Linked DNA regions of Homo sapiens: region 1 is linked to region 2. The links come from fine-mapping of genetic effects on gene expression. A gene starts in region 2. The other region holds a variant in brackets. All regions are shown on one strand. Distances are from middle to middle.

Evidence for each region.
Region 1: its variant is fine-mapped to the expression of UBE3C in whole blood (TOPMed, PIP 0.90).

What each region holds. Positions count from the first base shown.
Region 1 is chr7:157,171,146-157,174,169 of GRCh38, reverse strand. All of the region lies in intron 4 of UBE3C (ubiquitin protein ligase E3C), which reads right to left. Among named protein-coding and RNA genes, the nearest start is that of UBE3C, 34 kb to the right of the region's middle. The variant T/C (reference allele first, on the strand shown) is at 1,370.
Region 2 is chr7:157,137,824-157,140,545 of GRCh38, reverse strand. UBE3C (ubiquitin protein ligase E3C) reads right to left here and starts at 1,620. Exons shown (of 23, transcript NM_014671.3): 1 at 1,208-1,620. The coding sequence starts at 1,273. RefSeq lists silencers at 989-1,058, 1,109-1,498, 1,779-2,128.

The sequences.
Region 1 (3,024 bases), 33 kb before region 2:
GCTGGTCTCGAACTCCTGGCCTCGAGTGATCCACCAACCTCAGCCTCCCAAAGCGCTGGGATTATACACGTGAGCCACCACCCTCGGCAAAGATAGCCTCTTAAGTGTAGCTAGTCATAAATACGCCACATAGCCTTGTCTTTGCCTATATTTTTAAGTAGTTTCTTCGACATTAACATTTCTTTGCCATAAAACGTTATTAAACAATGAAATTACCAACACAAAAGCACTCTGCATAATAAATTAGCGCATGTCTTAAACTGGGATGAAATAATTCTGAACTACTCCGAATATTAGTTAATTTGCCTACACACAGGCTTTCTCTTGAGGTGTTTGGAGCCACCTTGCCCACATTTTCTCAGGAATGAATAAGGTATGAATACTCCCTTCACCATCTGACATGTAGTTCGTCCTAAAATTTCTATTATCAGTTAACAAATAAGATGTAAAATAACTATACATTATATAATAGGACTGTTGGAAGAAGACTTTATCAAAAGATTCAAAGAAAATTAAGCAACTAAAAAGTGAGGCAATTAATTCCAGAATTAAACTATACATAAAATATAATCTTAGTACCATATTTGACTTAAAGTCGTAAGAAAAATTTTTTAAAAAGGAGGTGAGGAAGAAATAGCCATATATGTTGATTTTTGCATAGAATAACTTTGAAAACCCATCAAAAGTGGCATTATGCTTACTCCTAGAGTAGAAGGCAAACAATGTGAAGACTGGGGCAGGAGACATTTTCCCCTACGTTAAGATTAATTTATTGCTATCGCATCTATGCTTGAGAACTGAATCAACATTCAACCGCCCAGGCTGGAGTGCAGTCGCAGGATCATAGCTCACTGCAGCCTTGAATACCTGGGCTCAAACGATCCTCCTGCCTCAGCCTCCTAAGTAGCTGGACTACAGCAGCAAGCTACCGCAGCCAGCTAATTTATTTTTTGCTTTGTTTTACAGGTGGGGTCTGGTATTTTGGCCAGGCTGGTCTCAAACTCCTGGCCTGAAGGGATCCTCCCACCTCAGCCCCACAAAGTGTTGGTATTACAGGCCTGAGCCACTGTGTCCAGCCCACTTTTCTTTTATCCTTTTCCTGGACTGGTCTTATGACATTTAATTCTATTTCAGGTTTCAGAATCTGCACATGAGCAATTTGCTTGATATTTGCTCGAGGCCGAAAGTCAAATATGTTCATTTACCTCCAAGCTTTTCACAGATGGCTTCTGAAGCAAGACTGTGTAGCTACACCATGTCGTGACTGATGACTAAGATTGAGGACCTCACTCAAAGGCAATAGGTGCTCTGGAGAGACACCAATCGACATCTCACAGCACCTGCCTGTCTGTGCTCCTTGGTGATCTTG[T/C]AATCTACAAGATTAGAGTATGTGAGGCCAGGACATCCTGTTCCAGAAAGCAAGCCCGATTATCTGCCGTTGTACTATTCTGATTCTTTTTTTCAACAACTTCAGAAAGCAAGCCTGGAAAGAGCCTGCACTTAACTGAAGTCCAGAATGGGTAGATTCAACGGCTTTCACTGCCTCTCTAGACTGGCTCTCAGTTCCTTCTCTGCACGTTCTCGGTTTACAGAAAGTCTTCACCATGTTCCACCTTAGCTCAACTCTGGAGGCAATGCTGGGTTTTAAAGCCAAACACTAGAGGAATAATCATGTATTCCTTTGTCCGCTGTAATTAATTCAAGTAGGATCATTCTAGTAGGGATGGTTTGTAGCGAGGAAGACTTATTTTTCACTGTATACTCCCCTTTCATGCAATTTGAAATTTTTAACACAGATAAACAAAAATTTCCAAAAATAAATTATATATTTAACCTGGCTGGGTGTGGTGGTTCATGTCTGTAATCCCAGCACTTTGGGATGTCAAAGCAAGTGGATCACTTGATGTCAGGAGTACAGACCAGCCTGGCCAACATGGTGAAACCTGACTCTACTAAAAATACAAAAAAATTTAAGCTAGGGGTGGTGGCATAAGCTTGTAACCCCAGTTACTCAGGGCGCTCAGGTAGGAGAATCGCTTGAACCCAGGAGGCGAGGTTGCGGTGAGCTGAGATCGCACCACTACACTCCAGCCTGGGCGACAGAGTGAGCAAGACTCCGTCTCAAAAAGGAAAAAAAAAAAAGATAAATAGCATATTTAACCTAGGCCAGGTGCAGTGCTCATGCCTGTAATCCCAGCACTATGGGTGGCCGAGGCAGGTGGATCACCTGAGGCCAGGAGTTCGAGACCAGCCTGCCCAACATGGCGACATCCCATCTCCACTAAAAATACAAAAATTAGCTGGGCGTGGTGGTACACGTCTGTAATCCCAGCTACTTGGGATGCTGAGGCAGGAGAATCGCTTGAACCCGTGAGGCGGAGGTTACAGTGAGCCGAGATGATGCCACTGCATTCCAGCCTGGGTGACAGAGCAAGACTCTGTCTCAAAAAAAAAAAAAAAAAAAAAAAAAAAAAAAAAAAAAATATATATATATATATATATATATATAAAATATTTAAAAATGTATATAACCCAACAATTATATACAAATCTCTTAATATTCCTTGAGAAAATGGACAGTAACAAATTCCATTTTTTAAAAAAATTATTCTTCTATGCATCTGGTTGTATTTTCCACCATTAATACACACTGTTCCTCAGCACTGATAAGATCAACAGCCTACAAAATTTTAGAGAACTACGATTACATTTGGGATTTTTTTTAAAAACATGAGACCCTAAGGCTGGGCATGGTGGCTTATGCTTATAATTCTACCACTTTGGGAGGATGAGGTGGGAGGATCACTTGAGGCCAGGAGTTGGAGGCTAGCCTGGCCAACATGGTGAAACCCTGTCTCTACTAAAAATACAAAAATTAGCCAGGCATGTTGGTAACACGCCTGTAATTCCAGCTACTTAGGTGGCTGAGACACCACCGATTGCTTGAGCCCGGGAGGGGAAGGTTGCAGTGAGCCAAGAATGCACCACTGCACTCCAGCCTAGGTGACAAGAGCAAGGCTCTAC
Region 2 (2,722 bases):
AATCCTTTGATCTCATAAAACATTTTCATTAACGTGGAAGACCCTAAGTGCTACCACGACCACCCTTAACTGCACAGTACTTAGTTCTGGAGCACAAGTGACTTCCAAGCAATCACCATCACACGAACCTCAAAGCTGAAAAATTATCAGCACACTTCTCTCCCAACTCTTTACCCAGGTTCCCTTCTAACCTCAGAAACCACCAAACACAGCCCCACAGCACAATCTTAATAACAGCAGTTCCTCCTTGGCCTGCCAGCACCCACTCTGCGTTATGTGCCTACCTGGTGGTTGTGATATACAGAATATACTGATAGACAAGAAAAACTAGGTGAAGCATTTTAAAGAACATTTCAGAAATGATGGGAAGGGGTGGGAAGGGAGGGGCGGGAACAAGACCACACAGTGTTCAACGACTTAGCGGTTCCAGTGAACCAACTGATGCCCGTCTTCAGGGACAGACAGCTAGAAATTCTAGACTAGAACAGAGGCGTCATGGTTTGCCTACCCTTATCCTAAACAATTACCATGCGAACAACTTAATGTCGATCACAACAGATGTAAGTCCGGAGTCTCTCCACAGTTTCCAGGAGGCTGGTGGCAAATAATTGCCCTCGTCTTGGATTCAAACACGTGGCTATTCATGAGACGTTCTGCCTCTACTTTAGAGATTATCGACATCAGCAAATGCGTGCCGTTCACCTTCTACAACCGAAAACGCCCTTCAGGTGGCATTCGAAAAGCAGCCACTCCCTGATGCCATGCGGGAGCGAGCATGGAAAGCGCATTTCTGAAAGGAAACACCCAGAAAGGGTAAGTTCACCTTGGGTGGCACAAAGCGTGCCAGGGTTCACCGGCCTCCTGCATGGAAGGGAGCCACGGCCAGCGCGCCCGGGTCCCGAAGCGCAGTGGACAGGCAAGGCCCCCACGGGCGCGGCCTCGAGTTCCAGCCAGGGAGGCCCCGAGTCCAGTCCTAAGCCCCAGCCAGAGTCCTGGCCCCAAGTCTCGGCTCCGAGTCCAACCCCGAGTCCCGGCCGGAGCGGCCCCGAGATCCGGCGAGGAAGCCCCGAGTCCCCGCCAGGGAGGCCCCGAATCCAGCCCCAAGTCTCGGCCCCGAGTCCAGCCCCGAGTCCAGCCCCGAGTCCCAGCCCCGAGCCCCGGCCGCGCAGGCCCCGAGCCGAGGGCGCCCCGCCAGCCCGGCCCTCACCTTCCTGCTCGCGCCGCCAAGGGACACCTTGGGCCGCGTCTTGAAGTCGCCTTCGAAGCTGAACATCCTGGCAGCCTAGCCCATGTGCGGGCAGCGCCGCCGCGGAAGCAGCCGGGCGGGCGGGGCACGGGGCGGGCTGGGAGGCTCTCGGCGCCCGCCCGCCCGGCCCGGGGCAGCGAGGACGCGGCGGCCGGGAGGCGACCCGAGCCCGCCCCCGGGCTGTACCCTCCCAGCCCTGCCCTGGGGCGGGAGGGGCGGCAATACTGGAGGGGCGGCCCTGCCTCGCCTGCCCCTCATCCACGCCGGCCACAGCTCGGGCCGCTGCAGGGGCGCCCAGCGGGCAGCAAACCCGGCGCTTGCACCTGGAACTGCCGCCTCGGGAGGGAAGATGGCGGTCAGCCGTCAGTGCGTGCGCGGCCCTGCAGACGTGCGCGGCCCTGCAGACGTGCGCGGCCCTGCAGACGTGCGCGGCCCTGCAGACGTGCGCGGCCCTGCAGACGTGCGCGGCCCTGCAGACGTGCGCGGCCCTGCAGACGTGCGCGCCTCCGCCATTGACGGCACGGCGCTCTTCCCGGCGGTTCCGCTAGCGTGCGCGGCCCCGCAAGGCGCGCTGGAGCCTGGGGAGGACGGCGGTGACGCGGGCTGGGCACGCGGCGGAGTGGGCGGGGCCTGGTGCGTGCTGGGGGAGCGCGGCGAGGGGCGCGGGAGGTGTTGGGTGCGGGGCAGGGTGCGGGAAAGGTGGAGTGCGAGGCACGGGCCGGGATGGGGTGCAGGGCAGGGTGCGGGGTGCAGGGTGGGGTGCAGGGGCCGGCACCCGGAGCGGGCTGGGAGCGGCCAATCTGGTGCCAGACTCGAGTGAGGCGGGAAAGGAGCAGCTAGGCCCAGCCCGTCTGTTTACATCCCACCTGTTCTATGTCTATGACACGCACAGACGGACGTAAATATTTACCATGTACACAGACATGCGCAGATTTGCCTCATACATAGCACACATATGCATCTATAGATACAGCATCAATACATATAAATATGTATCATGTACACATACCTGTGTATGCAAAAATATTTGCTCCTGGACTTACCATGGGGCTTTGTCCTGATAAACCCATCGTAAGATGAAAATATTGTAAGTTGAAAATGTATTTAATGCTACAATAAACCCATCACAAAGTCAAAAAATTGTAAGTTGAGCCATTTTAAGTTGGGGACCACCTATACATAAACATGTGTCTTATATCCACACATACGTATACATAATATCTCATATACATGTGCATATACATATATATCATACACGATTGAAACCAATTTCTAAAAATTGATTTTTGGTTGTATACAAGGTGTGCAACATGATGATTTCATAGAGACATTGTGAAATGACTACCCTCTTTGTGTGTGTGTGGTAAGAGTACATAAAATCTACTCTCTTAGCAAAATTTCAACACACAATACGATATCATCTACAGTCGTCCTGCGGCCGAGCACGGTCGCTCACGCCGGTAATCCCAGCACTCT